Linked DNA regions of Homo sapiens: all the other regions are linked to region 2. The links come from fine-mapping of genetic effects on gene expression. A gene starts in region 2. Each other region holds a variant in brackets. All regions are shown on one strand. Distances are between the middles of the regions.

Region 1 (10,266 bases), 55 kb before region 2:
TCTGTAGTCTGACCAAATTAGTTATTAACTCAGTCCAGCAAGGGAGGCCACTCCGGGGGAAATGTGGAGTGTCGCTCCAAAGAGGGAAGACAGGAAGCTGCTGAAGGATTCTGAAGATTCTAAGGGAAGTAGGCATCAGTTCTGGATTGGTTGCTCCTACTCTGGTTGGGGGTGGGGTCAGTTAAGAGAAGTGGGGATTAAGTAGGTATTGGGTGCTGCCATGAGGCAGCAGTAGCTCAGCAATGGGCTAACCAGCAATAGGTGGGTATGGCAAAGCTGTCTGGGAGTTTGGTAGGAAAGCAGTCAACGTTCAAAGAGGGGGTCTTTATGGCATTTTACAGCTGCCGACTGACTTTGGGGGAAGCAATGTTCCTGTGAACTTTGCAGCTGGCTTTCTTTATGTCTGTCTTCTTTCTGGCTTGAATTGACAGTTGCTTTTTCTTTTCTTTCTTTTTCCAGTCCAACCTATTTTTCACTCTTTAAATCTTAGACAGGATTTGACTCTCACCAGCATAGTAGGGTGTTTGTAATTTTTTATTGTGAACTTGTCTTCAGCAGGTTGTTTCTCCCAATGGGAATCCTTGAAACTCTTGAGTAGTAACATTTTCTCCGCGGAGATGATTCACACATTTGCTTCTGCCAGAATGCTGAGTGTGTCAATGGCCCTCACTCCTATGCACATGGCATAGGCCCAGGGTTTAGGTTTCTCTGGATGACATTTTCCCCCTCATGTTCCAGACCTTAAACAAATGGTGAGCTTCCTGGCTGATTCCCAGGGCCCATGTCCAGTTTTTCTATCTCCATTTAAGGGGGGAAGAGTGCCACAAGGCCTTATTTATTTATTTATTTATTTATTTATTTATTTTAAGATACGGAGTCTCACTATGTTGCCCAGACTGGCCTCAAACCCCTGGGCTCAAGCGGTCCTCCTGCTTCAGCCTCCCAAGTGGCTAGGACTACAGGCATGTGCCACCATGCCAGCTCAAGGCCTTCAATTTTATGCAGGGCTCGCTGCCTTCCTCCTGTCCTCTCACAGGTATTAGCCCCCGGCCCTAACTCCAGATCCATATTCTTCTGGGCTACTATGACATCAGCTCAGCTAGCTGCTCTGCCTTTGATGGTTCTCTTCATTCCTAGCACCTGGAGATTTATTTGGATTATACTTTATTCCACATCTTCTCTGCATTTGTGCTAGAACTGGGCCTACTTCCACAGTAGTTTCGTTGACTCGGTCCTGATGCTAGGACCTCAATGGTGGTTAAAAGCTCAGGCTCTGGGGACAGACCTGGGTTTAAATCCTGGAGTCCATGGTTATTTTTTCTATGGCTTTGGTAAACTCTTTAAGTGTCCTTCTCTTGTCTGTAAAATGAGAACAATGACATGCCTATTAAATGAGGTAGTAAATACCAAACACATATATAAGAACTCAGTAGCCAGGAGCGGTGGCTCACGCCTATAAGCCCAGCACTTTAGGAGGCAGAGGCAGGTGGATCACCCGAGGTCAGGAGTTCAAGACCAGCATGGCCAAAATGGCGAAACCCTGTCTCTACTAAAAATACAAAAATTAGCTGGGTGTGGTGGCATGTGCCTGTAATCCCAGCTACTCAGGAGGCTGAGGCAGGAGAATTGCTTAAATCCAGCAGGCAGAGGTTGCAGGGAGCTGAGATCACACCACTGCTCTCCAGCCTGGGTGACAGAGCAAGACTCTGTCTCAAACAAAAACAAAAACAAAAACAAAACTCAATAGATACCATTATTATTATTACTATCAATATAGAAAATTAAAGAAATAAAAAAGAACAAGAAAGACAATAGTGTGTGCCACCTGGTGGCAAGACTTACCTCCCAAATCAGGAGGTCTTCCTCCATCCATCTTGGACACATTCTACCTATAAATACAGAATCCTTACCCATTCAGTTGCCCCCCAAAAGCCTTTGATTTCCTCAGGATGGTTCCGAAAAACACCTTCCTCTTGTTACTTTACCCGGAACATGGCTTAAGTCTTTGGCTGCTGGAGATGGAAGATCTGCCTTTGAATATGAGAGTTCTGACCAGCTACTTCTGTGTTCTGTGTTTTGTGATGTGTTGTGTCAGTGGGTTAGTGTTTTACTGCTTCCTCTTAAGTAGAAGAATAACTTTCTTTTTGGTGACTTCTGAAACAGAACGTCCCCCTCCCCAAGACACACAAGTGTGCATATACAGGCACACATCAACCAGGCAGTATGCCGAGGTCATAACACTTCATTCATAACACCATTAAATTATAATCTAACCTTTAAATTATAGTTAAGATGATCATCAGCAGTGCAATGCCATGTGAGCTACACATATTTATTCCCCACATGTCTGATTTTGGAAATCCGACATCTTCTCTAAATGAGTGCACCTTCCTCTCAATGCTCACTTTCTCAATAAAGATAAATGCATCATCTACACACATACTCAGTTTCTATCCCTAAATTTTCCAGCCAGGGAAATCTAATAACTGTTTTATATATCCAAGGATATCTATGTGTCTAGCTATCTCATGCTTCTGGAATTCTACATTCACATATTATGAAGACTAAATGGAAAAGCCCGCATGGATGTATCTAGCCCTCAGTTGGTACTCAGTCAGCCCTCAATAAATGTTGGAATTGAACATGTCCCTAGCCTCTACATACTGATGCTATCTAAGGTAGATTTTTTAAATATGCAAATAATAAATTCCCTAGTGCATTTTTTTCAAAAGTTTCATATATATGTGTGTGCATATATGTATATTATATGCATGTGTATGTATATGTTGGCCTGCCAGTCACTTTTTCTGTTTCTCAAATGAGTCAGCGTAAGCTCTGGGAAGCCAAGAGTGATTTATATTCTGTACTCAGAGTCCTCCCCCACCAGAAGGTCTTACACTTTGCATAGATTCTTCTTATACACATGATGATGTTCAGGGCTGGCTTTGGTGTATCATAGTGAACCTTAAGGGGCCTAGGGGGAATTGTGTTTTTCCCCACTCCATGACAAATATTACAGATAGGCCCACTCAGCTCCATTCCGACTCCCAGCAAAACTTTGAAATGCATTGTTCTGAGCTATAAGTGGTTGAGAATACCCTACAATGGGTTATATGTTCCCAAGGTTGATCAACTTTTATAGGATTCCAGGGCAGAAACAAGTGGGGGTAATTTTTCCGCTAATATGCCTTGCTAAATGCTTCAGATAAAAAGAGAAAGACTATTAATTTCCTAGACTCCTTTAGAGCTGAGTTCTGAGTCCATCAAGGAAACTCACTTGGGAGTTTGGAAGACAGATATAAGGTGGGGGCCACAGTTCTGCTATTCTCTGTCATTCTCCTGGCATGCACATGTGTGGAGATAAATGGAGTTCTGTGACAGAAGTGGGAAGAGTCCCAGTGTCTGGTTCTTAGCTTTGTGGGTGTCAGGAACGATGTGATCCTAGTATTTCTGGTATTTCCTGATTCTCCAACTTATTGTAGTGACAGAAGAAGCAGCTCCCTTATGGGCCACTTCTGCCATCTTGTTCTGGGGAGTCATTCTTGGAAGGTCACCGTAGGGCTCTTCCTACAGCCCCTCAAACAATTTTTTAAGTACCTATTTCTCTTGTCAAGGAATCATTTGTTTAAGTTAGCCCTAGTGGTTTCTGCAACTGAACCCTGATGGATAGACCCTAGAAACACCCCTTCCTCTCACATCCCCATGCTATCTCAACCCAGGCTGGTGACTGTAACTGTAGCTGGAAAATTCTGCCTTTGAATCCTGTAGAAGCTTATCAACATAGGGAACATATAACGCCATGTAGGACATGCTCGATCACTTATAGATCTGAACAATACACTTAGAAGTTTTGTCCTGGGAAAAAGCTTTGACTGTGTGGAAAAAAAGAAAGAAACAAAAAGGATTATGGGTGTAGTGGGCACCTTTTTTTTTTTTTTTTTTTTTTGAGACAGAGTCTTGCTCTGTTGCCTAGGCTGGAGTGCAGTGGCACGATCTCGGCTCACTGCAAGCCCACCTCCCGGGTTCACAATATTCTCCTGCCTCAGCCCCCCAAGTAGCTGGGACTACAGGCGCCTGCCACCACGCCCGGCTAATTTTTTGTATTTTTTTTTTTAGTAGAGACGAGGTTTCACCATGTTGGCCAGGATGGTCTTGATCTCCTGACTTCATGATCCGCCTGCCTCGGCCTCCCAAAGTGCTGGGATTACAGGCGTGAGCCACTGCGCCTGGCCTTAGTGGGCACCTTTTTAGAGGAGTTGCCACTGCAGGAGACAACCAGGTACTGAGCCGGAAGATAAACGTTGCCACCTCCATGCTTTTACCCCACACCTTCCCCTGATGATTGTGGCATTTGGTTTTACAGCAGAGTGTCACCATCAGGGAAACCAAGTAACTGGGAAAGTGGCTGGAAAAGTCACCCATCCCAACCACCCTCCTTGCCTGAATCTGCAGCCATGATGCAAATTTTCCAAAATGCTCTGTTTAGCAAGAGTTGGCTGTGAGTTCTAAAGAAAAAAAACCCTAATAGTATTTTTGTTCTCATCCTAAGTGTTCTTGCAGGGGAAGTATTTTTTTTTTTAATTTAAAAATAAAATGTAGTTATTTTTATTTAAGACAATTCCCCATCTTGAACACATTTACATTTTTTTCTTCCCCCATTTACAGCCTATTTCCTGAAAAATGTTGAGAAGATTTAAGTGTCTAATATTTTCCAAGGCCATCTCATGATTCATCAGTTTATTGTTTGTTAAGTATCAGCCTCAAGAAACTGGCTTAAATGGGAATGTTGATCTGGATTTTCTCCTCTGATTTACTTCACAGATGACGGGAGAATGAATTAAAAGATTAAAAAGTCAACATTTTGCTGAGTCCTTTGAATAACAAAGAGGTCCTGTAAGAACCAAGTGAGGCTAAATAGGCAATCCTTGTCCTGTGATATAGCATCACATATTAATAGAATTTGTGACAGGAGGGAGGGGGGCGGGCGCAGTAGCTCATGCCTATAATCCCAGCACTTTGGGAGGCCAAGGTGGACAGATCACCTGATGTCGGGAGTTCACGACCAGCCTGATCAACATGGAAAAACCCCGCCTCTACTAAAAATACAAAATTAGCCGGGCGTGGTGGCACATGCCTGTAATCGCAGCTACTCGGGAGGCTGAGACAGGAGAATCGCTTGAACCTAGGAGGTGGAGGCTGTGGTGAACTGAGATCGCGCCATTGCACTCCAGCCTGGGCAATAAGAGTGAAACTCCATCTCAAAAAAAAAAAAATATATATATATATAGAATTTGTGACCGGAGGGGCCTTAGGACCTGTCACCTAATTTCACAGAAGAAGAAACTGAGCCCTAAAGAAGGGAAATGACTAACTCAGGATTGCCAGTGACCAGTGGCAGAGCTGGGAGTAGAATTCAGGTCTCCTGAGGTTCACCCTCC[G/A]GTGCTTTCTCTCCTGTCTTGCTTATTTTCATGTGAACCCTTTTTGATCACACTTCCCTTTCCTGCTTTCCAGCCTTTTGATCACACTTCTACTTTCCTGCTTTTCAGCCTGAGTATGTCTACTTATGAGAAATACAGAGATCATTTAAGGAGCTGAGAATTTCCTTCTCACTTAGAGCTCCATAGAAGTCAGGACTCCCATTCACATGGAACAGATGAGAAAGAAAAAAGTTCAGAAGGGAGTTTCACTTGCCAGAGTCCACACAGCTACGGTTAGACCTCAGACCTCCTGAACAACCAAGCCGATGTCCTTCCCAACACATTAAAACAGGTGGGCTAAATAGGTGGCCTGGTACATTACATGAATGTACTGTTCTTTTGTTTAAAGAAGTGTGTGGGAAACAGAATTTGGTCTAATTAAAGGCCGTTGGGGGTGGATTAATGAAGTACAAAAAGGGCCTCATTAAAAGAAGCTGTCTTCTAAAAGGCAAGCCAATGGCAGTTATCTTTCCAAAGTGAACATTAGAAAGTGGTTCCTGTGTAATTTTCCAATCATTTAACTTAAAGATTCCTATCTATTGATACATGAGGGTCTGCATGTACTTTTGTGATGGCTTGAACCAAGGTTGACTTGAGCAAAAAGCTGCTCAAGGCCAGTGATCATTGTTTAAATTATGAAAGTAATATAAGCACATTACAGATCTTTGGAAAGTTCAGGAGGGAAAAAAATGTACCCATGGTTCTACCATCCAGCATGGTATTGTTATTATTTTGTACATTCCCTTTCTGTCTTCTCATCAGAAGTGTCTTTACGCAGTTTTAAATGGTCTTCCTCTAATTTTCATAGCATACTATGACCTTGTATTACACTTTCCCCTGTGACATTAGATCATAAACATTTTTCTCGTAGATTTTGTCTTCATGAGCATCACATCTAATGGCTGCAAAAAGGTCCACCTCATGGGGGTCCCATAAGGTGCTCGTGATTCTCTAGAGGATTCATGAACATCTTTCCAGGGGGGGGTCACATTGTCAAAGACAGCAATGGCATTTGTTTTAATTTCAAAAAATAAAAAGTAGCTCAGTTTTTAATTTGAAACATTGCCCCTTTAAAGCTGAGCAGCATGAGAGCCTCTGGATGTGTGTCACGTGGATACACACAGGGTTAGTGGAGATGATAAGCCAGTGCCTCAGTCCATACCCCGCTCAGCACAACACACTGGGGACTAACACCTAAGAAGTCTATTGGACTGTTATAAATTCCACACGGACTCATGCTATAACATGGATGAACCTTAAAAACATTATGCTGGCCAGGTGCGGTGGCTCACGCCTGTAATCCCAGCACTTTGGGAGGTCGAGATGGGTGGATCACCTGAGGTCAGGAGTTTGAGACCAGCCTGGCCAACATGGTGAAACCCCATCTCTACTAAAAATACAAAAATTAGCCGGGCATAGTGGTGGGTGCCTGTAATCCCAGCTACTCAGGAGTCTGAGGCAGGAGAATTGCTTGAACTCGGGAGGGTGGAGGTTGCAGTGAGCTGAGATTGCACCACTGCACTCCAGCCTGGATGGCAGAGTGAGACGTGTCTCAAAAAAAAAAAAAAAAAAAAAAAAGAAAGAAATTTAGGGGACACATTCAAACTATAGCAAGGAACAATTCATTTACTGGGAATAATGATTATCCATACCCCAATTCCATTTCCAAATGTACTTGTAGAAAATTGTTTGCAAATGACAGCCTGAAATCTCTCATCTCTTTGTTTTGAAACAAAACATAAAATGTCCAAAAATAAAACAGTTGAGATCCGTTTGTGATTCATAAGGGTGATGATTGGGTTTTCATGCTAATATGTGAGATGTGACTCCTTCAAACTTCCTTGTTATGACATCAGCACATTACTCATCTGATGTGAAAAGAAATTTTTAATTTAAAAAAGTTGATATTTTAAGCTAAAATGCAAAAATTCTAAACACTAGGCAATCACAATAGCTTTTGTCCATTTGACTGCCATAGCATGTAGTTACTTTTATTTTATTTTAGAGACAGAGTCTTACTTTGTTGCCCAGGCTGTAGTGCAGTGGTTTGATCTTGGCTCACTGCAACCTCTGCCTCCTGAGTTCAAGTGATTCTTATGCCTCAGCCTCGAGAGAAGCTGGGGTTACAGGCGTGTGCTACCACGCCCAGCTAATTTTTTTTTTTTTTTTTTTTTTTTAGACGGAGTCTCGCTCTGTCGCCCAGGCTGGAGTGCAGTGGCGCGATCTCGGCTCACTGCAAGCTCCACCTCCCGGGTTCACGCCATTCTCCTGCCTCAGCCTCCGGAATAGCTGGGACTACAGGCGCCCGCCACCACTCCCGGCTAATTTTTATGTTTTTTTTTTTTTTTTAGTGGAGGTGGGGTTTCACCATGTTGGCCGGGATGGTCTCCATCTCCTGACCTCGTGATCCACCCACCTCGGCCTCCCAAAGAGCTGGGATTACAGGGGTGAGCCACAGCGCCCGGCCATTTTTGTATTTTTAGTAGAAACGAGATTTCACCATGTTAGCCAGGCTGGTCTTGAACTCCTGACCTCAGGTGATCCACCCACCTTAGCCTCCCAAAGTGTTGGGATTACAGGCATGAGCCACCTCGCCCAGCTGCATGTAGTTACTTTTAATCTATACTGAATATAGGCTTGGTCCCTAAACTAACCATAATAAACAATTCCATTTCGAAATGTAAATCACAAATTATATTTTGTCTTACATAATTGATTTAAAGTATGTGTCATGTTAAACAGAAAGTTGAATTTTGTCTTAATAACATGAATATTATTGGATTATATTAAATTAATATTTTTTGTAGAATTGTAATACTTTTTTAAACATAAACAATTTTACAAAAAATTGTAAAACATATATCAATGAGCTAATATTTATAAGTGTAATATTCTAAATATTTTTGAAGTGCCTGTAACAATGCCTAGAACAGTGCCTGGTACATAATAAGCATTATATGTGTCTGTTAAATAAAAAGAAAACGAAATTATAAAATATTTTAAAATACTACAAGTTTTATAAGTATATTTATATATATGAATTGATAAAGAACATTTGCATAGTAAAAAATATATATACATTGGAAAATGCAGATTTATGTAATCACTCCCCCATTGTTGGCTATTCAGGTTACTGCCAGTGTCTTTTTTAAAGGATTACTATGGTGAACATTTTTCAAGCGTAAAGTTTCAGTAGTTTATGTTATTTTCTTAAGGTATCTTCACAGAATTGGATAACCGGTGCAAAAGTTGTGATGACATGTATTACTTTCTATATGTGTCATAGTTGCTAATATTATCTTAGTGGCACTTAGCATAAGGAAAATATAATGCCCCAACTCTGCGTCAGGCTCTGTTGCAAGAGGCTTTACCAAACTTATTGCTATGGTTGGAATATTTATTTCCTCCAAAACTTTGTTGGAATTTAATCCACAACATGGCAATATTGAGGAGGGGGTCTTTAAGAGGTGACTGGGTTATGAGGTCTCTGCTCTCATGAAGGGATTAGTTGATCGGTGGGTTAATGGATTAACGGGCTATCCTGGGAGTAGGACTGGTGGCTTTATTAGAAGAGGAAGAGAGACCTGAACTAGCATGCTCAGCCCCCTCGCCATGTGATGCCCTATGCCACCTTGGGGCTCTGCAGAGTCCTCACCAGCAAGAAGGCCCTCACCAGATGTGGCCCCTTGACCTTGGACTTCTCAGCCTCCATAACTATAAGAAATATTTTTTTTTCTTTATAAATTACCCAGATTCAGGTATTCTGTTATAACCAACAGAAAATGGGCTGGGCACGGTAGCTCACGCCTATAATTCCAGCCCTTTGGGAGGTCAAGGTGAGTGGATCACTTGTGGCCAGGAGTTTGAGACCAGCCTGGCAAACAACCTCCTTACTAAAAATACAAAAATTAGCTGGGCATGGTGGCACATGCCTGTAATCCCAGATACTCAGGTGACTGAGCCACGAGAATTGCTTGAACCCAGAAGGGGGAAGTTGCAGTGAGCTGAGATGGCATTACTGCACTCTAGCCTGGCTGACAGAGCGAGACAAAAAAAAAAAAAGGGCAATAGAAAATGGACGAAGACACTCATCTTTATGGATCTTCATGATAATTCTGTTGGGTAGGAGGTAGTATTATCATTCTTATTTTCTAGATGAATCAACTGAGACTCAAAGAGTTGAATCACAATGACCTGATGTCTAGGAGGGAACACTGAGTTTCAACTGCAAGTACACCAAGTAGGAAAGACTGTCTTGTGGTAAATTTCTTTCTCTTGGCTAAAAGTAGGGGGTGATATCGGGTCAATTTGTTATTGTCACCTACAAGAGAGATGGAAAAGGCTTCTACATTATCATGAACTTGAGAATCTTACAGTTAAAAATTGGAAAGATGAAAAATGGGGTGGAGAGTGGGGCAAGAGTGATTGGTAGGATTACTTGGTGTATCAGTTTCCTTGGGCATCCATCACAAAGTACCACAAACTGGGACGCTTAAACAATAGATATTTATTCTCTTATAGTTTTGAAGGCTGGAAGTCCAAAATCAAGGTGTCAGCAGGCACCTGCTCTCTCTGAAGGCTCTAGTTTCAGGTGGTTACTGTCAGTCTCTGGCATGGCTTGGCTTGTGCATGCATCACTCTAATCTCTGTCTTCACATGGTCTTCTCCCCACTGGGAAGACAGAGATAGTGATTTGGACACAGACACCAAGTCTCTGTGTAAAGACACTATTTCCAAATAAGATTCTGGGTGAACATGAATTGTGCAGGGTTACTATTTTTAACCCAGT
Region 2 (10,266 bases):
TTCAACAATTTTCCGTATTTCACTAATCTTGTTTCATTTATTTAGTGTTTTGATGGGGAGGGGATGGAGTATTGGAAAGCAAATCCTAGATATATTTTCACTCAAAATGCCTCATTATGTATCTGTAATAGATAAGAACTTAAAAAAAACTGCAATGCCATTATCATATCTGAAAAAGTGATTAATTTCTTAATATCAGATAGTCTACATTTTGTCTCAAAAATGTCTTTTAAAAAAATCTTATTTATTCAAATCAAATCCTCACAAGATCTAAATATTGTATTTAGTTGTTACTAACATTTTAGAATGTTATTTATTTTAGAAGTCATTTATTTACATGCATTTAACCTTTATATTAAACCAACGCAGAAGGTATGGTCCCAGCTCAGAGAGGTTAAGAAACCTTACCAAGGTCTCATTGCTGGCAGGCACCGGACACATAATTTGAATTAAATCTTCTTAACTCCAAAGCCTCCATGCCACTCCTTCTGATGCAGGCTAACAGAATTTTTCCTGTGTTGCAGAGAGGCAAAAGGGCCACTATTTAAGAGAGAGGGTCCGGGTGTGGTGGCTCATGCATGTAATCCCAGCACTTTTTGAGGCCGAGGCAGGCAAATCGCTTGAGTCCAGGAGTTCGAAACCAGTCTGGGCAAGAATGGTGGAACCTCATCTCTACAAAAAAATACAAAAATTAGCTGGGGGTAGTGGCGTACACCTGTAGTCCCAGCTACTGGGGATGCTGAGGTGGGAGGATCACTTGCGCCTGGGAGGTTGAGGCCACAGTGAGCTGACAGCTAACCCTGATTGCCTCCATAGACTGTGCCACTGCATGCCATCTGGGCTGACAAGAGTGAGACCCTGTTTAAAAAAAAAAAAAAAAAGGAAAGAAAAAGTAAAAAGAGATAGGGTTTGGATTCAGGTTGGCCTGGATGCAAATTGGTGCAAATTACATAATCTCTCTGAACTTTCATTTCTGTCTGCATCTGTAAATAAGGATAATGATGAAGATTTGGGGCAGATTAAATAAGAATATGCATGCCTAGTATTTAGCACAGTGCGTGGCACACGGAAAGCCCTCGATAAATGTTAGCAATTAATGTAGAAGAGGAAAAAGAACCACAAAGTATTTAAACATTTGCATTTGTTAGTAGCTCGAGGAAATGGTGGCTCATCATTGTTAATAGAGCCTGCTTAGGATTGAGGCTGAAGGGGGGAAGGGTGGGAGTGGGGATAGGATAGGGGAGTGGCTCTACCTGGATTGGAGAAAGGAGTTCTGGACATAAAGATTTAAATTGGTGTCCGAGGAGTTCTCACAAGGCCTCAGCTGGAAAACAGTTAAATGCATCTTCTGACCACTAACCCAGGTTGCCTCCAGAGAAGGAAAACCAAGTGGGTGGCAGACAGGGTGGGAGGGAGACTTCTTGCTGTTTATTTGAATTTGGAACCATGTGAATGCATTCAACCTATTCCAAAAGAATAAATTACATTAAAAAATGGTCTTTTGCTATGGGGATAAGTGCTGAGAATGGTAAGACTAGGATCTAATGATAATAATAATAATAATTCCATTATACTTTGTGCAGCCCTAGGAGGGCTTCAGTCATGCAGGACAGGTTTTGAACTAAGATTGGGACTTTTTCAGCCTGACTCTGATTTCAAAGATCCAAGCTAATATTTTAATTTCAGTCACCCTCCTTCTGACCCTGATTGTAGAAAGATTCCAGACCCAGCGCTCATGGACTTGGTTTATTCAACCTGTGGATTGCCTTCAAGAGTATGCATTGTTGGGAGTCAAGTCTATTGGTAAAATCAGGGATGCATTGTCTGTGCATCTGCCGGTGTTTCCCAGTCCTTTTGGTGCTCTCTTTCTCTCTCTCTCTCTCCCTCTCTCTATATATATAATTTTATTTTTTGAGACAGAGTCTTGCGCTGTCACCCAGGCTGGAGTGCAGTGGGGCAATCTGCTCACTGCAGCCTCAACCCCGTGGGCTCAAGCCATCCTCCTGCCTTAGCCTCCTCAGTAGCTGGGACTACAGGCATGCACCACTATGCCTGGCTAATTTTTTATTTTTTAATAATAAACGTGGAGAGGGTCTCTCTACATTGTCCAGGCTGGTCTCAAACTCCTCAGCTCAAGCGATCCGCCTACCTCATCCGCCCAAAGCGCTGGGATGACAGGTGTGAGCCACCCCGCCTGGCCCCATAGATATTTTTCTGATGCTTCAATCAGCTAAGACTCTGAGGATCTGATTTTCTAGAGTCCTTTGGAAGGTGGGGGGGGGGCGGGGCGGGGGAGGATACACAACCCTATTCACAAATATTAGTAACTTGCTTTAAACTCTAAGGCCTTACATAAAATAACTCATTTAAACCTCACAATAACACTATGATATGAATACTATCATTCCCATTTTACAGGCAAAGAAACTGAACCAAGCGGTTAAGTAATTTGCCTAAGGTCAGAGCCTGCAGAGCTAACCATCTGGCATTACCATCACTCTGTTGGCAATGAACAGAGCGGGCCAAGCGTGTAGGGTGTAGGGGGTCCTTTGAAGATGACAAAAGCGTCCTTGGCTGTGTAGCCGCAAATCCCAAATCCTTCCTTCTCTGCAGCTTCTGGTTTAGGAGCTGGAAAGACAGGCTGTGAATTTCCACATTGACCTGGGGCAATTAACTTAACTCTCCGAATAGGTTCCTTATCTGCCCCGGGGAGGAGTTTTAGATTAAGAGGGTGTGTGTGTGTGCTGGGAGGGAGGTGGAGGGGCTGAGTTTTCTGGGTGGTGCGGTTTTCCCAAGTCCCGTTTTGAGGTTTTGTCCTAGCCAGCTCCCGCTCAGGTCCCTGGGCGGTGACGGTGGTCAAGCTTAGCTTGGCTGTTCCTCCTCCGCTTGGAAAAAGGCCGCCACTGGGGCCAACTCCGGCCACAGCGCTGCTGCCAGGAGACCTAGGGTAGGTCTTTTCCCCTGAGGTAGAGACCTGGGTGTACCCTCAGGAAGGCATCTTGAAGTTACTGACAGTTGAGTCAAATCTTGAAGGTCCAGCAGGAGTTAGTAAGAAGAGGTGGAAGGGGAAAGGTTAGGCGCCCCCTCCTCCACCCCTTGAACAAAGAAAGCTTGACGGGGCTTACAATATCCGAGGAAGAGCTGGGCGGGTAGAGAGGTCTGTAGAGGCGAAATCACAACTTGGCTTTATTCTAAGGGCAATGGAAGAGGGTTTTGAAGGCTTTAAAATAATGTCATTAGGAGTTTTAGTCGCTTGGGAGGAATGGGTCGGAGGGGGACAGGAAGCTATCGCAGAAAGCAGCCCACTTGGAAGATGACCGAGGACTGAGGAAAGAGGGCGGGGGACATCGAGCATCTGAAGCCTTTCCCAGTCGCCGCAACACTGTGCGCTGTCCCTCGGCTTTCTTTGCTTATGTGGAAGGGCTCCATAAAGGGCTGGGCACGCGCCAAACGCTCATTAAGCGAAATAGCCCGGGTCCCCTCCTCTTTTCAGGGACTCTGTGGTCCACGTGCCCCAGAATTGGTAGGGTAGGCGGGAGGACTTTCCACTGCTGAAGATGGAGAACCGTTACCCCTCAAAAAACACAAAAACCTCGGGTGCTTTTGGCAGCAGTCTCCTCCGCTCATGACCTCATGCTTTAAGCTCCCATATAGCCTCCCTCCGCCCAATCCACACCCAGCGCCCGGGTGGGGGTGGGGTGGGGGACACTGGCGAAGGTCTGGGTAGCGGGAGGTCATTCTTCTTGCGCGACATTTTGGGGGAAGGGGCGCAATGATTTCCCCCACGGAAAAAAATGGATGGTGTAACTTTCTGTCGTGCAAAAAATACTGTCTTGCCCTCGAGACAGATGCCTCGAACCCGGCTCGAGGTGGTCTGTTTAGCTGAACTACCTTTGGTTCACGTTTCCTCTGACCAGGAAAGAAGCTTGGAAATGCAGGGGTCTCAGGCCAGGTTCCCTGACACCTGGGCCGACCACTGCCACGCCTTCTCGGGACCTGGGGGCCGTCCTGCTGTTGCCCTCCGCCCCCGCCCGCGCCGCGGAGGTTTGAACCTTCGGCTCGCCTTTCAGCCCGCGCCCTGCCCCCTGCTCGCAGCTGCTCCCGGTTTGGGTGCAGCGGTTTCCCCCGCAGAGGAGGAGGAGGAGACAGCGCGAGGGAGCGACTCCGGGCTCGGGTTTCCGCACCAATGCCGAGCAGCCCCGGGCGGCCCCCGGTGGCCGTCCCTCCTCCCCGGCACCACGTTCCACAGTCATGGCGCGCGAGGAGGGGCGAGCGCGCGCGGCGGCTGCACCCGCGCCCCCTCTCCTCCCCTCCCCTCCGCCGCCCGGCCCCTCTCCTAGGCAACCCCCCTCCCCGGCCTGCTGCGCCTGCCGCGGCAAGGGAGACCCCTCCCCAGAGAGCTGCTCTTCCAGCGCGGTCTACTGCACCCCTTCCCCGCCCCCATCGGGGCGGAGGGATGGAGACGCGCGCTTCGCGAACCTCCAGCCCCTTCTCCGGAGCCCCAGCCCTCTCCCAGCCCCACCGAGGCCAGGGTGCGGTGGGGGTAGGCGCGGACCGTCTCCTCGCAGCCCGCCTCGACCTCGGCATCTTTGCAAACACTTAGAAAAATAAACAAACCCCCTCACAAACCCCAGTCGTTAGCTTGCAAAGCGTGTTACAATAACCGGGACGGCTACGCAGGAAGCAATCCTGCACTGGTCCGGGTTTAAGGCGGCAGCTTCCCGGCCACGCTGCCTTCTCCCCGGCCTCGATTTTCCGGCCATGCCGGAGGGTCCGCTGCACCTCAGGGCTGACAGGTCCCGCTCGCGCAGGGCCGCAACTGGGCCCGTGTCCCCCGTCCCATCCTCGTCCAGAGACTCGCCAGCCTACAAAAGGTGCAACCTCACGCACACGCAAAGCGCACAAATAAAGTCAGCAGCGCACCGCCGCGAAGGCTGCGAACAATGCGCCGGGCGGCCCGCGCCCGCCGTAGCGCTGCGCCCCGGGGGAAAGGGGACGCGGGCGGGGGCCGAGGCGGACGACCAGCCGGTCGCGGCGCTGGACACCTTACTTCCTGCTTCCCCGCCCGCGGCCAGACCCAGCTCTGCGGAGGGATATCTCCCCTCCTCGGTCCCTCTCCCTCCCTTCCCCCTCCCTTCCCCCGCCCTCCCCCTCTTTTTGCTCCTGCTCCCCCCCCCCACCCCGCCTTTCTCCTTTTGCAAGAAAATAATTTGACAGTCGATTTGCTGACAAGGGAGGAATTTGCATCCTGGATTTAAAAAAAAAAAAAAGGCCGAGAGGAGCTTGGGAACGGTTGCTAGGGGTGGGTAATGGGTGAAAAAAGGGGGGTACCGGGGAGCGGATAAGGAGGGTTAAGGGAGGGGGCGAGGATGGGGAGCAATGCAAAGGTAAGGCCAGGTTACCGCGGCTCGGCCCCGAGTGGGCTGCGACCGGGGGAGGGGCGAGAGATACATATGTATTTCTGTCTCCCCAGCACACCCCCTTCCCTCTAAGCGATGGCTGAGAGGCGGTGCATGCAGATGGGGAGTAAGTTTCCTGAAGGGGAGGGTGGATGCACGCGCGCAGCCCGGCGCTGCAAATTTCCACTGGGGAGGGAGAACGGCTGGATGCGGAGAGTTTGGAGTTGCTTGCGGCGGAGGGCAGGAAGGGGAGCAGGGCTGGGAAAGGGGGCTGGCGGGCGCTATATCTGGGAGTAAGTTTCCAGCATCAGGAGAGCCTGCACGCTTGCTCACTAGTAAGTTTCTGGCCGGGGAGGGCGCATGGGGAGGAGGAGAGGGAGGGGTGCATGTATATAGAAGGGGGGAGGGGGGAGCAGATTTCCTGCGGGGAGGCTGAATGCATATGGAGAGTAGATTTCCTGAAGGGAGGGTGGAGGCGTAGACGGACCGAGTAAGTTTCTTGCTGGGGTGGTGGAGGAGGTGGTGGGTTGGTGCTTTGGAAACCCAAAGCTTCCTACCCTGGGTGGGGGAGCACACTCTTGTCGGGGGGACGAGGGGCCAGGTTCCCTGCTGGGGAGAGGGGCTTGCATCTGGGGAGTATGTTTCCTGGCGGAGCGATATTTGTTTACAGGCTGAGGGCAGTACAGTAAGTGAGTAGCGCTGAGAGAAGGCGGCTGACATAAATTAATATTGAAATTACTCCATCAGCTCTGCTCGCCCCCCATCTCACCCCCCAAGCGGATACTGGTCTTCTCGTCGGATTGCCCATGCACTTGTTGCAGAAACAGCCAAGGTAGGCAAGAAGCTTATTAAGTTTCATTTTTAAAAAATTAGTTTGGGGATGCTCCTCGAGAAGACGGGGGTGGGGCGAAGTGGGGAGGGAAGAGTGGGGAGACAGAAGGAGAAGTCTCCCCCCCCTTTACTTTCACTATGCAAGCAGGCCTTCTCCCTTCTTCCCTTCTTCCCTCTCCGGGCTGCACAGCATCCCAGCAAAGGGGGAGGGATGAGGTGGGCGCTATAATTGGCAACCCTGGCTTAAAGGTAGTGATGGTGGGCTTGCATTTGAGGTTGTGATGTTATAAAGGCTTCATTCTCCAGCTAAGAAACCGCAGGACTCTGCCTTTTGGGGTTTTTGACATGATACATATGTGTATGTATACGCGCCTGCGGGCTCTGTGGGGGCTGGGTACTCCCCAGAAGTTAGTGTGGCCACCCAGATGGGAGAAATGTGTAAGGGGGTAAACCTGTTCCTTCACTCCCCAACTTCAGTTTGGGAGACTGGGAAGTTACTGCCGGTGGTCTTAAGAAACAGATATTAAAAACCAACCAAACCACTCCTTCACCAGCGGAGGCCGAGAGCACCTGGCAGGCAGCCTCTGGCCAGCACTGGACTGGAGCATGTGCGCCTGCCATCCTTAGGTTACAAGAAAACGCTTTCTGGTTCCTCCGTGTGTCTTCTACCGGCCTGTTAGAGCCAGCTTTGTGGAAACTCTTCCCCAGACTAGACGCAGCTTTGGCAAGTGCCAGTACTGAAGGGGATGGCTTCAATTCAGCATGGCCTGGGCTGTCTTGTGAGTGCGTGGAAGTCGTGCTTAGGAATGACCGCCCCTGTAGTGGCTAAAGAGTTCATTAAAAAATATCTCCTGAAAACCGGTCCAGGTGCACTTTTCAGCAGGTCATTGAGGAGAGTTTTAAGAAGGGGAGTTTTAAGTTGTCCCAGTTAGCACCCACCTTCTGCATCACTGACCCTTTTAAGAAAGGAGTTTGGCGATAGGAAGTGTGGTGTTGATGCTCACTGACTGGAGAGGATAACAGCAGGAGTCCTCAGTGCTTAACTAGTTAACCAGCAGCCTTTGCCTCTCCTTGCCTCTGTTTTCTTGGTCCTCAGCCTACTGGTTTCTGCAGAAGAGTTGTAGGTCTTAGCTGTCAGCTACCTTGATGATGCTGGGAGTTTTAACTTTGCTAGGATAATTTTAGCATCTCGGGTCCAACCCGGAGACGTTTAGTAGGGTTAGGGAGTAGCCACTAGGCAGTGGGGTTAACTGAGGTTGGTTAAGCTTTCTGCAATTCTGTAGACAGGCTCTGTTCTAGCAGGGTCGAGAAAAATGGGTTTTAAAAAACTCGCTACACATTGCTGATGGAGAGTGCTTTTTTTCTTTCCTAACTGTCGTCAGATTTCCAGATTGAGGGTTGATATTTGGCAGTTTGAGAGTTGAGTTAGTTGGGAATTAAATATTATTGCTGCTTATCAAATGTTCCTAACTAGGCATTAGTTAAGCAAATTAGCTATTATTTTTACCTGATGAAAATCTGAGTCTGGTTGTTGTATTTGCTGGGAGGGTAAACAAAATCTTTATGTATGTTCATTCCAGGGTGGAATTATTTACATGCCTAGCCTCAGAGCCAAGAGCAGTCATTCAGGTTTTTTTCCTTATATTTATGAGATTTATTTTATTGTCTTGCTTTGGCCATTAATCAAGTCACAGTAGTTTTTTTTTTTTTTCCTCTTCTACCGAGAATGTTCTTGCGGTAATAAAGGCTTGAAGGCCCATGAATCATAATTCGTTCTTTTTAAAATATTGTGGTGATTGTCAGGATCTGATTTATAGGAATTGATACCCGGAGTGACACACCTCTCTGGGCTCCGCCCTTTTAGGCATGTCCATTTTCGCCAAAGGATTGTTTAGAAGCCAGCTTGACATCCCAAAAAGAGCATTTCCCTTCTGCTGTATGAGAAGATTAATTTTGCAGGTTCCATAGTAAACATGGGTCTTTTCACAGCTTGGTAAGCAGGCTTCCACATAGCAGGCATGTGTTATTATCACATAGCATTTATGTGAGCTTGCTGTGAAAACAGTTGTTCTATGAACTGTGTGGAAAGTACTCAGTTTTGCCTCCTATAACCGGCTTGGGCCTGTGGTTTTTGTTGAGTTAGGAACTTAAAGTGTAAAAGAGGAGACAGACTGCAGTGTTCTTTGCTGCTTGTATAATAAAATGTGTGGTCACAAAAAATAAAGCTTGTTTATGATTTTCTTTTTCTCCTTCTTTAATGGGTGGGTTGGTTATAATAACCGAAAGCGTTATTTTTTTGACAAATGTAAGGATTCTCTGTGAAGCTGATTAGCCAGGAAGTGTTAAAATTGTCTTGTGTTCAATAGTTGGCTTAAGTTTACAGTATTGGTAAAGTGACAAAGAACTTAAAGTAGTTTGATGCTCAAGGCTAGGGGAAACATCACTGGAAAGAAAGGTGGGGAAGGTACCAATTTCTAGCCATTTCTGGGCTTTGGATTTTTTATCTTAAAAGTGCGTGGTTTGATCCGTGAGTTCCCTTCCGGCTCTGAAATTCTGTGTCTTGTAAGCGAGGTCTCCAGAGGTCTTGACAGTCTCTTCCTGAGCCAACGGCCAATTGCTTCATGGACTTGGGTGAGCTGATTAACTTCTGTTTTTGTCTTCTCATGGAGAAAGTGGATTTGATCCTTGGTATTCCAGAAAGGTCTCTTGAGTGGCCTGGTGATCTTGACCATCAAACACAAGGAAATACTTATGAATAAATGTCTGCCAGTGTCTTGGACAAAAAATTCTCAATTCTATGCACTAACAGAGAGTGCAGCATGTACATATCCTAGGTACCAAAAATAATTTCTGTTCATCTTAGAAGTTTCTTCTCCAGCCAGTTGGTTAACTTGTCTAATCCTTGGTCAAGTCTAAGGTTAACCAAGCTCTTATTCCCAGGCAGCAGGAGGAGATAGCTTTGGGGAGAAACTGGAGACCAGAAAGCCCAGTGTGGCTTTGCCTGCTTTCTGTGGGTAATTGGGATTTGGCTGAATATTTGTGATAAGGTTCATAATAATGATATAGTATCATTTTTATCACCAGGATTCTCTGTATTTCACTATGGGCATTTTTGGGAGAAGCTCTTGATGTTTTTATTGACTTTGGACATTGCCATGAAAAGTAAGGATTTAGGGCTGGGCGCGGTGGCTCATGCCTGTAATCCCAGCACTTTGGGAGGCCGAGGCAGGCGGATCACCTGAGGTCAGGAGTTCAAGACCAGCCTGGCCAACATGGTGAAACCCCGTCTCTACAAAAATACAAAAATTAGCTGGGCATGATGGTGGGGGTCTGTAATCCCAGTTACTTGGGAGGATGAGGCATGAGAAGTGCTTGAACCTGGGAGGCAGAGGTTGCAGTGAGCCGAGATCATGCCATTGCACTCCAGCCTGGGTGACAGAGCGAGACTCTGTCTCAAAAAAACAAAAACAACAACAACAAAAAAGAAAAGTAAGGATCTAGGCAAGTGGCTTATACCCCAGGCGGTATAAATGGTGCTCATGGTCCTGCTCTAAAGGCGGTTGAATTCAGCTCATTTTATTTCCGACCTCATAAAACTGTGTGGCTGAGGGAGGAGGAAGGATTAAAATCATCTGGGATCTTGTGGATTAATGATATTTCTGAATTTGCATGTTGAAGGGAAACCAGTAAAATAAAGGAGAACTAACGAATAGTTGATTTCTTTTGTGGAGAGAGGAGGACAAGAACAGCTGGATTCCAGTTACTGGCGTGCGTTGCCACAAGGGTGCTGTGGGCATTTTTAAGGAATAATATAGTCTCAGTAACATGAGTTTGACCCCAGGGCTCTCTTAATAAATCTTTTCTTCTGGGCTAAAGAAAACACACAACAAAAAGCCTCTGTGATATTTTCTAAGAATTTTAAGTTCTCAGAGTAGCTGCTTGTAGTAATTTGGTTTACTGAAGAAACAGATGATTCTTGGTCTTTCATCATGGAAGACGATGAGCTGGCATGGGGTAGCATATGCTGAGCTGTTGG
Region 3 (10,266 bases), 130 kb after region 2:
CACTAATTATGGAACAGACCCTGTGCTAGGCTGTGGGAATACCAAGATTAGCAAGTCTCCCACTTTATGTCTCTACCTTCTCTTTGATGTTGGTTCAACAAATGCCAAGCACATCCCATCCATGTAATGTCCCTGTTGCCTCAAACATGTCACTTGATCAGAAAACTTTGGCAACAATCTGTTCTGAAATAAAGTTCCAACTCCTGAGCCTGGCATTTAGATCTCCCCCATTGCACTACCCTGGCCTGGCAAACAGCCCATCTCTCACTCCTCCTGTGGCCAGGTAGACCTGCTCGCTGTCCCTAAACATGTCTCACTGGCTGCCTCCTCCTGTCTAATTCCACTCAACCTTCGGGGCCAACCAATGCTTACCTGCTTAGGAAAACCTGCTAAGACATGTTGCCTCCTGGTTTTGGGGCTTGGAGGCACCTATTATTGCACTTTTTCACTGGGTGCTTATCATGCTACCTTGTACCCTGGTCTTTCTCCATGGTTGTCTCACCTTCCCTATTGTCAAATTGCTGGGATTATTGCTTCATAGGTATCTTTCCTCTCTCCCATGATAGAATGCAGGGCTGACCTATGGAAGTTATCCATCAGTATCCCTAATGAAAACTGGGGGAGGCCAGGCGCGGTGGCTCACACCTGTAATCCCAGCACTTTGGGAGGCCGAGGCAGGTGGATCACGAGGTCAGGAGTTTGAGACCAGCCTGGCCAATATGGTTAAACCCCGTCTCTACTAAAAATACAAAAATTAGCCGGGCGTGGTGGTGCATGCCTGTAATCCCAGCTACTTGGGAGACTGAGGCAGAAGAATCGTTTGAACCCAGGAGGCAGAGGTTGCAGTGAGCCGAGATCACACCACTGCACTCCAGCCTGGGCGACAGAGCGAGACTCCATCTCAAAAGGAAAAAAAAAAAAAAAACTGGGGGAAAGTTGCACCTCCTTTATCAACTCTTCCTGACAGTTCCTTAGTTCTGCTGCTGAACTAGAGGAGGTCAGTATTTACCACTCTTAGACAAATACATGTTTTGTTGAATCCATTTTTTTTTTTCATTCAGATAGGCAATGGAGAGGGCAGGATAATGGAGAGTGTGAGAATAGGTGCTAGTTATCCTCTGCTTGCCCCCCACCCCCTCCCAGTGCCATTCTCTGCCCTGCTGTGGCCTGGGAGACCAACCTCAGTGGATTGTGTCAACTAGGCTCCTTTACTTTACCTTCCAGGTGTGGTTGGGTTTGGCCAGTAGGAGGCACCAGTAGGAGATCCAAGAATAGGCAGAAAGCAGGGAGCGTTAATCCCCCTGCTTCCTCTCAGCCTCATCAGTTTTCTGGCAACGGCTATCTTTTACAGCTACAGCTCCAGTCCTCCAGATGCATTGGGCTACAGTAACACTGTTCTGCCTTCTTGCCCTTCATACTTAGTCTCATACTTAGTCTCTGCATGCTGCACCATATATTGCTGGTTGCCTTAATCCTCCCCACACCTCTATAACTTGTTCATTTATTAAATTATTTTTATTTAAACTCTTTTGATCGTTCTCTATAGTATCTGAGAGTCAAGCTTAGCAGGCTTAGTTATCTGTCCCAATATACAACCCCACGAATTGATCTGTGTTATTTTCTTGAAAAGGGCATTTTGCTTTATTTGGGGCAGGGGGTTTGCATTCGGAGGAATTTATAATAAAAATTAGTCTCCTGGCCCCTTCCCTTCCTAACCCAGACCTACTGCTTGGAGGCACTTTTAACTCAATTTTATTTTATTTTAGTTTAGTTTATGGCATTTACCTCCATATTTTCAATAATGTGCTTTAATTTTACTCCTATTTTAGAAATTACTTGTTGACTTTCTGTTATGATAGATAACAACTTAACTCCCTTATACCATCCCTCTACCTCTCCTCCCCACATCCTCACAACAAAGTTGTATTATTATTTATAGTTCCTCTGCTTAGTTACCTTTATAAGTAAGATTCTTACTATCATATTTCTTGTTTCTTAACAACAGTACTTCCTGAGTCCCGGTGCAGTAAAATGGCAGTATTTGCGTTCTTACCTAATTTGCCTTCTACTTTCCAACTTCTGTCATCTCTGCTTTTACTTTTACATTGTTAAGATTGAAAACATTTACATTTTTATTTTGTAGCTGCCATTCAGTCTTTTATGCTTTATCTACAGGTTGATCTTAAAGGCTGAAAAACTAGCAGATAGGGCTTATGCTATTGTGATTGCATAAATGACAAGTTGCACATTGACAATCCACCATTGGACATACTTGTTTGATTTGCCTAGTGATTTTTTTTTAGGCTTACAGCCAACATTTAAAAATTGGTAGAGTTTTTTTTATAAAAGATTTAGAGTTTGGGGTTTTGTTTTAAAAATTGGAAGTTCTGGCACATATGGTCTGACTTCCCACATATAGTAACACTCTGCTGGAGTCTGTCCCCTTTAGAATAGGCATTCCTACTCTAGTTTGCCACAGTTCCTACCACTCGCAGTATATGCAAGTGTTCCAATACCTGACTTGCTCATTTATTTACTTACTTGCATGACGCTGAAGGCATTTAAGTGTGTGACCCTGATGCTTGATGTGTTATTCTCTTTGGAGCCAAGTAATATACTATGGATACTTTCTTTTACAGCTTTAATTTTTCCAAGACTTTCTCATTGCCTTTTTTTTAAAAACTTTGCTGTTATTATATCCTCATTTTTTTTCTCTCAAACTCTCTAGCCAGTTGGGTATTTTATATATCCCTTTCTCCCAGGGTCCTCTATTCTTCTCAAATTTGATTTCATTCTAGGTCTGCTACAGAGCTGTCACCTGAGATTTCCTCTACTACTTTACTAGATTGGTTCTACTGCTTCCTGGATCTCAAATGTTTTTTTCAGGGTGGGGTTTAGGGGGGTCTCAGGGTTGGGGCTGGTTAGTTCAGTTTCTCCAGAGAAGAAAATGCCTTTTTTTTTTTTTTTGGCTTGGAAGAATAGATAACCTGGCTGCCTCATGAGCCACCTATGAAGGGTGCAAATCTTCTGACTTCAGATTTTATAAAATTCCCCCCTTTTCAGCCTCCTATCTGATTCCTGCCCTCCGTTGTTCTGGCGTCTCTGAGTCATGAGCCTGTGGCCATTTTGCCAGGCTAATGGAATCTCATAATATTTGAGCGCTGGAGCTCAGGCTTCCTGTGCTTGCATCATCAGTTTCTAATCTTCCATATTCTGTCTGTTTTCCACAAAGTTGTCCCAATCTCTGTCCTGGGTAGCCCTCACCTGTTCCCTTTATTGTTGAAGTTATGCCTTTTAAAAAAAATTATTAGGCCAGGTGCGGTGGCTTACGCATGTAATTCCAGCACTTTGGGAGGCCGAGGCAGGTGGATCACCTGAGGTCAGGAGTTTAAGACAGCCTCGCCAACATGGCGAAATCCCATCTCTACTAAAAAATACAAAAATTAGCCGGACGTTGTGGCGGGCGCCTGTAATCCTTGCTACTCAGGAGGCTGAGGTAGGGAGAATTGCTTGAACCTGGGAGGAGGAGGAGGTAGCAGTGAGCCAAGATCATGCCACTGCACTCCAGCCTGGGCAAAAGAGCGAGACTCAGTCTCAAAAAAAAAAAAAAAAATTCTTTCACTTTTGTTTTGGTAGTGATGTGTTCAAATGGAGAGGGTATAAATGAATACAGTTAACGTATTCGTCTTTAATAGGTTGTGCTCAGAATTGATCTCAACCCTTCTTGAATCTGTTTAAATTGTTGTCCTATGTCAATGTAAGAGCCAATAGGCTAAACGCTCCACCACCTAAAGTAGGAACTTTTAATCCTAAATTTACCCCTTTAGGATTTAGGAAACCTGTCCTAAACCCTAAAGGAGTATATTTAGGATTAAAAGTTTGATTGAATAGACATATAATAATATAATATAATTTAGTTATGGCTGGGTGCGGTGGCTCATGCCTGTAATCCCAGTACTTTGGGAGGCCGCCAGGTGGATCATTTGAGGTCAGGAGTTCGAGGCCAGCCTGGCCAACATGGTGAAACCCCATCTCTACTAAAATACAAAAATTAGCTGGGCATAGTGATGGGTGTCTGTAATCCCAGCTATTCGGGAGGCTGAAGCAGAAGAATTGCTTGAACCCAGGAGGCAGAGGTTGCAGTGAGCTGAGATCACACCACTGCACTCCAGCCTGGGAGACAAAGTGAGACTCCATCTCAAAACAAAAACAAACAAAAAATAATAATGATATAATGTATTTAATATAATATATAGCATTATATTATTATATGTCTATTGAATGCACCATTTTTTTTTTTTTTTTTTGAAACACAGTCTCACTCTGTCACCCAGGCTGGAGTGCAGTGGCACAATCATGGCCTTGACCTCCCAGGCTCAAGCAATCCTTCCACCTCAGCCTCCCAGGTAGCTGGGACCACAGGCACACACCATCACACCCAGTTAATTTTTACATTTTTTTGTAGACATGGGGTTTCCCTATGTTGTTCAGCCTAGTTTCGAACTCCTGGGCTCAAGTGATCCTCCTGCCTCAGCCCCCCAAAATGCTGGGATCACAGGCATGAGCCAGTGTGCCAGGCTCATACTTTTTTTAACAATCAAATTAAAAGCTTGTATTGGTTAGGGCAACATTAGCTGCTGTAATCATCTCCCACATTTCAGGAGTTTAACATGAAGGAAGTTTATTTCTTGCCCTTGTAACAGTCAATGCAAGTGTTTCTGGTTGTAACTGGCTTTCCTCTACAAGGTAATTTAGGGATCTACATGCCTTGCCTCTGTCACTCTGCTATACTCTGGAGCATGCATCTTTAATGGGGGCAGTATCATGCCCAAGGGGGCAAAGATCTTGGAGGCTGAAAAATCTTACATTTTGATGCATAAATCACAAACATCTACATGGTACATAAACAGATATAGAGTATATCTGTGGTGTGAAAATGTCATGGAGGAAAGTAATTAGGGAAAAAAAATGTCTAAAAAGTCCCCTTAGGAGGGCAACAATGAAGAAAAGGTGGAGAAACACTGCCACAGGCCTATGAGGACTCTTCATTCAGGTGGAAGGGAAACAGAAGATGGAGAAGGCTCACCTGCTTCTTAACCACCTTGGCCCAAAAGCGATACAAGTTACTTGGCCCACATTTCATTGGAGAGAACTGGTCAGGGAGTTCCACCTTGCTGCAGGAGGAGATGGGAAATGTAGTCTCTGGCTGGCCACACTTCAGAGTACTTCTAAGTGAGGACTCTTAGCCAAAGAAGGGAGAGCATCTATTTTGGAGGATGGTTGGCCTCCCAATACAGGAATCAAACAATGTTGTCTTCAAGGACCAGGTACTACATATTTTGGGCTTGCAGCCATGGTCTCTATTGCAGCTACTGAACTCTGCTTGTTGCAGCTGAAAGCAGCCATAGATAATACTGAAATGAATGGGTGTGGCTATGTTCTAATAAAGCTTTATTTACATAAACAGGCAGCGGATTGGCCTTCAGGCTGTAGTTGTCCAGCCCCTGAGTATCCATTCTGGAGCCTTTCAGTTGTCCACATTACCTCTGCTTCTTGGGACCTAACCCACATTTCCTTTACTTCCAGTGCCTAACTAGAGCCTGGAGCTTCCTCTTAACTGAATGAAGGGTTCGTCTTGGCTGTTTCACTGAAAACAGTGGAATATGACCCTCCACCAAGTGAAGTGTAGAGATCCCAAGACTGTAGAAAAGAAAGAAATTTTGTCTATGTCAGTCCAATGTTAGCCCTCCCCACAGCCACCCTACATGGTAGGGGTAGAGTGCCTGGCACTCATTATTAAGTGCTCAGAAATTTCCTGTATTCAGTGTTGGGGGCTGGTTTAAAACTACTTGTATTCAGCGAAATAAGACCTTGGAGAATATGGACCTCTATTTCTTGTAGCGTTAGAGTGGATTATTATTCAATGGTTAAAACTAGTATTTACAAAGAGCTTT[T/C]TTTTTTTTTTGGAGACAGAGTCTCGCCCTGTTACTCAGACTAGAGTGTAGTGGGGTGATCTCGGCTTACTACAACCTCCACCTCCCAAGTTCAAGCGATTCTCCTGCCTCAGCCTCCCAAGTAGCTGGGATTACAGGCGCCTGCCACCACGCCCAGCTAATTTTTGTATTTTTAGTAGAGACGGGGTTTTGCCATGTTGGCCAGGCTGGTCTTGAACTCCTAACCTCAGGTGATCCGCCTGCCTCGGCCTCCTGAAGTGCTGGGATTACAGGTGTGAGCCACCGTGCCTAGCCTAGAACTTTTAACAACATGACAAAATGCTTATTTTATAAGCAGGATTCAAAATTATGTATACAATATAATCTCAACTATATCTTAAAAAGTTTAGCAAAAAAAAAAATAATTCTCAACAAGTGATGGAGTTTTTCTTCTTTTTATTTTGTATCTGTTTTCTAAAATTTTTACAGTGAACATGTTTTAGATGTGGAGAAGACTGTTATTTTAAAAATTATTGAGGTCTGGGAGCTCACGCTTGTAATCCCAGCACTTTAGGAGGCCAAGGCGGGAGGCTTGCTTGAGCCCAGGAGTTCAAGAGCAGCCTGGGCAACAAAATGAGACCCTGTCTCTATAAAAAATTTTTTAATTAGCCGGGGATAATGGTGCGCACCTGTAGTCCCAGCTTCTTGAGAGGTTGAGGTGGGAGGATTGCTTGAGCCTGGGAGGTTGAGGCTGCAGCAAGCCATGATCATGCCACTGCACTCCAGCCTGGGCAACAGAGCAAGACTCTGTCTCAAAACAAACAAACAAACAAACAAAAACTACTGAGGAGGAAATTAGTGCTGAGTGAGGGTATAATTACCCAACAGGTTCTTCCTTCCTCCTGCACAGACAAAACCAATTCACTGAGACCACAGTATTGTAGTAGACAAACAGTTTAAGGCAGAGCCAGCCAAGCAGAAAGACTGGAGTTATTACTCAAATTGGTCTCCCAGAGAACTCAGAGGCTAGGGTGTTCTACGGATAATTTTGTGGACAGGGGAATGGGAGCTGCTGATTGGTGAAGGTTGAAATCGTAGGGGTGTGGAAAATGGTCCTTGTGTGCTGAGTCAGCCTCTACATTAGGGGGCCACAGGACAGGTTGTCATGAGTCCCAGGTCCAGGTAGAGTCAGATGGTTGCCAGAATGCAAAAGTCTGAAAAGCATCTCAAAAGACCCATCTTAAGTTCTACAATAGTGATGTTATCTATAGGAGCAATTGGGGAAGTCACAAATCTTGTGACCTCTGGCCACATGACTCATGAGTAGCAAGGGATTATAAAAAGGCAAGCTGGGGGCGGTGGAGGGGAATGGCTGGTTATCCTTTAGCTACACCTACATGTTAGCAGAATTCAGGCCCCTCCCATAATCCTAATCTTGTGGCCTTTCATTACCAAGACAAAGGCGATTTTGGTCCCTGAGCAAGGAGGGGGTTCGTTTCAGGGAGGGACTGTTATCATCCTTGCTTCAAAGTTAAAACAATAAACTAAATTCCTCCCATGGTTAGCTTGGTCTACACCCAGGAATGAGGGAGGACAGCTGGCTTGTGAGGCTAGAGGCAAGATGGAGTCAGCCATGCTAGACTCCTGTCACTGTCATAATCTTTGCAAAGGTGGTTTCAAGAGTATTAATGAAGGTGTCTGCCTGCTTGTGCACACATAAGCAGGCACCTGAAAATGCCATCCAAAATTTTGTTAGAACAAAGTCACTATGAGGCAGTCCCCTTCATCTGTCCTCCCCAAGTTAGAAAAGCTTCTTTGGATAGTGACCAGGAAGGGTTCTGACCTGCCTCTACATTGAGGCATTTTTCTCATTTCTTAGTAATGAGACCCTCACCTAGATTTTCTTTCCACTGAGGCAGACCAGCCTCTCTGGATGAATCATCAAGATTAGCAATGCGGGGAGGAGGAGGTGCATGCTTGGGGTTAACTGCGTGCCAGAGTCATTGGTCATCACAGCCACTTCCCCAGACCCATGGACTTTCTTGACTTTGGCGGAGAAATTAAATAACTTGTGACTCGAAATGTCATTTGTGTAGACCCATTAGCCAGGCAGCCTGACGTCCAGGTGCCCCCACCCCCAGTGGAGCAGAGAACAACTCATTCTGCAGGAAGAACCAAATCTGAGATCATCCCAAAACAGCCTCTTATTTTTTAGGCCTCCCTTGGGTCCTCATGTGCATCTTCCAGGTACCGTGAGGGTAGGTGTGGGGGTCCTCTCCCCTGAAAGGAGAGCACCCCCACCCAAGTCCCTCCTCTTCAGCCTCTGCCTGTGTTTCTGCTGGTGATGTCCTTCTTGAGCCTTGAGCTGTCTGCACACTGGTCCCAACCTGTGCCTTCCACACTGCTCAGACTTGCAGCGTTCTCCAGCCCTCAGACACTTCACTATGACGTTAGGGGGTGGCAGTGGGTGGGGGGGGGGGTGGTGTTCCTCTCCCCAACCCTGACCCAGGGGCCCCACCTGGTCTCTTGAAGGATATCAGCTGCTAGAAGACAGCCCGATGGCCCCCCTTCATTTGACCTCCTTTGTCTCTACTCCAGGAGCTCCCTCTTAGCTCCAAGTTAGGTTAGGGTGACCTCGTCACAGCCTCTTTGCCTCTACCCCTGCTTCTGTGCTCTAAGCGCCGATCCTAGCGCCCTTCTCTTTCATCCCAATGTGCCATACTCTAGACCTGGATGTGCCACGTGTAAGGATCACACTCCAGCAGGCACGAGGCATTAGAAAGTCCTTGGCATGTGCTTCTGTGAGCACCCAGACTTCTTACTGTGACTTGTGAGGCCCTGCACCAGGGTTTGTCAACCTTAGTGCTATTGACATTTGGAGCTAGTGAATTCTGTCTTGAAAGGGACTGTCCTGCACATTGTAAGATGTTTAGCAGCATCTCTGCCCACCAGGTGCCAATAGCACTTCCCTAGTCGTGACACAGAAATGTTTCTAGACACTGCCAAATGTCCTCTGGAAGGCAAAATCACTCCAGGTGGAGACCACTACCCTACATAATGGAGACCCCGTCCTACCACGCTGCCTCATCCCACCCACTGCACACCTGCCACATGCACGCTCATCCCTGCCAGAGCCACTGCACTCGCTGTCACCACTGCTGTGAACGTTCTCTCCTCACATCTTCATGCTTTGCTCATTTAGGTCTCAGCTCAACTGACACCTCCTTACCTTGGCCTTTCCTAAGCACCCTATGCGACCAACCTATTCGCTCCATCAAGTTTATACTTCTGTTTTGTTTTAAAATCACGTTTAGAATCTCTGACCTTGTTCCTACTGCTTTCCTCCTGGTTTTCACTGTCCCAGCCACACCCTTCTAATTCCTCAGTCACATCCGGCATGTACCCACCACAGGGCTCTTGCTGTTCCTCCTCCTAGAATGCTCTTTCCCCAGATCTCATTGTTCTTATTCCTTCAGGCATTTGCTCAGATGTCACCTTCTCAGAGAGGGCTTCCCTGACTATTTCCTACTTTGTTTTTTCCCATAGCATCTACAGCCATCTAATACACTATACACTTTAATTATAATAATTTTTATTTTCTGTTTCTCCCTATTAAAATGAAATCTCCATGAGGGCAGGGAGTTTTGTCTTCTTTGTTCACTGTTGCGTGCCAGTCACGGAGAACAATGCCTAGCATTGAGGCACTCGGCCAGTATTTTTTTAGATGCATGAGCTTAATTTTGCAAGGCTTGCTGGGACCTCTGCCCTAGTTTAACTGTGCACATTTGAAAGCATCGGGTGAGCTTGGCTTCTTGTTGTAAAACCAGGGATTTATGTTGATGAAGAGTTCGATCAGGGTAGACTCATACTCTAAAGCATGTTTTCTTGTGAATAGAGATGTTTACAAAGCACAAAGCAGTGAATTTGCTAATAGTTCTTTTTACTGGCATCAGCTAGGGTTCTGAATTTAGCTGAAGCTTATACTTACCATGCCATGGTGGAGGTTTTCATTTCCTAATATGTACATGCATTTGTCTAAAAGTAATTAGTTTGTCTTCAGTTATGAGCCACAAGAGGTCAGGACCACCACTATGGCACCTCTCCAGAAAGGGGCGTGCCTGATAAGCACAAAAAAAAAACCCTTTAGGGCCGCACCTCCAGCTGTTCCCTGTTTCCCAGGATCTTGTTTATTTCTCATCTCTCCCGGCTTCCGGTCTCATTCCTTTGCTTTTTCTCTTAATAGGCTCTCATCCTTGTCTCAAAATCCCTGTCCTTACCTCCATGATCCATAAAGACCATGGCTCTCAGAAGGCAACGTAGAAGTGAGTCTGCA

Alleles and levels. Positions count from the first base shown, and alleles are read on the strand shown. Sizes are in standard deviations (SD) of each study's normalised expression.
In carriers of allele G in region 1, the expression in lymphoblastoid cells of the gene that starts at base 5,482 in region 2 tends to be lower than with A alone (moderate effect, 0.68 SD a copy in GENCORD).
As copies of T replace C in region 3, the expression in macrophages of the gene that starts at base 5,482 in region 2 goes up (moderate effect, 0.46 SD a copy in Nedelec 2016).

The links. PIP is the estimated chance that this variant, and not a neighbour inherited with it, causes the effect. A credible set is the group of variants that fine-mapping cannot tell apart.
Region 1: its variant is the best candidate, but not a certain one, in a credible set for the expression of TRERF1 in lymphoblastoid cells (GENCORD, PIP 0.51).
Region 3: its variant is the best candidate, but not a certain one, in a credible set for the expression of TRERF1 in macrophages (Nedelec 2016, PIP 0.51).

The regions. Positions count from the first base shown.
Region 1 is chr6:42,502,585-42,512,850 of GRCh38, reverse strand. It overlaps LOC124901534 (small nucleolar RNA U13), which reads left to right and starts at 7,245; the gene lies at 7,245-7,351. RefSeq lists enhancers at 5,488-5,607, 10,250-10,266. The variant G/A (reference allele first, on the strand shown) is at 5,439.
Region 2 is chr6:42,447,142-42,457,407 of GRCh38, reverse strand. TRERF1 (transcriptional regulating factor 1) reads left to right here and starts at 5,482. Exons shown (of 18, transcript NM_001395490.1): 1 at 5,482-5,734; 2 at 6,147-6,231. LOC124900214 (arf-GAP with GTPase, ANK repeat and PH domain-containing protein 2-like) reads right to left here and starts at 5,048. Exons shown (of 4, transcript XM_047419627.1): 1 at 3,126-5,048; 2 at 2,493-2,628; 3 at 1,254-1,463; 4 at 224-672. The coding sequence starts at 4,587. The coding sequence ends at 3,490. It overlaps LOC107986596 (a long non-coding RNA gene), which reads right to left and starts at 5,048. Exons shown (of 5, transcript NR_171668.1): 1 at 4,783-5,048; 2 at 3,126-3,191; 3 at 2,493-2,628; 4 at 1,254-1,463; 5 at 224-672. RefSeq lists silencers at 4,028-4,467, 4,938-5,017.
Region 3 is chr6:42,313,854-42,324,119 of GRCh38, reverse strand. The region is part of intron 3 of TRERF1 (transcriptional regulating factor 1); the gene reads left to right. Among named protein-coding and RNA genes, the nearest start is that of MRPS10, 100 kb to the right of the region's middle. RefSeq lists enhancers at 7,381-7,470, 8,061-8,120, 8,189-8,856. The variant T/C (reference allele first, on the strand shown) is at 5,955.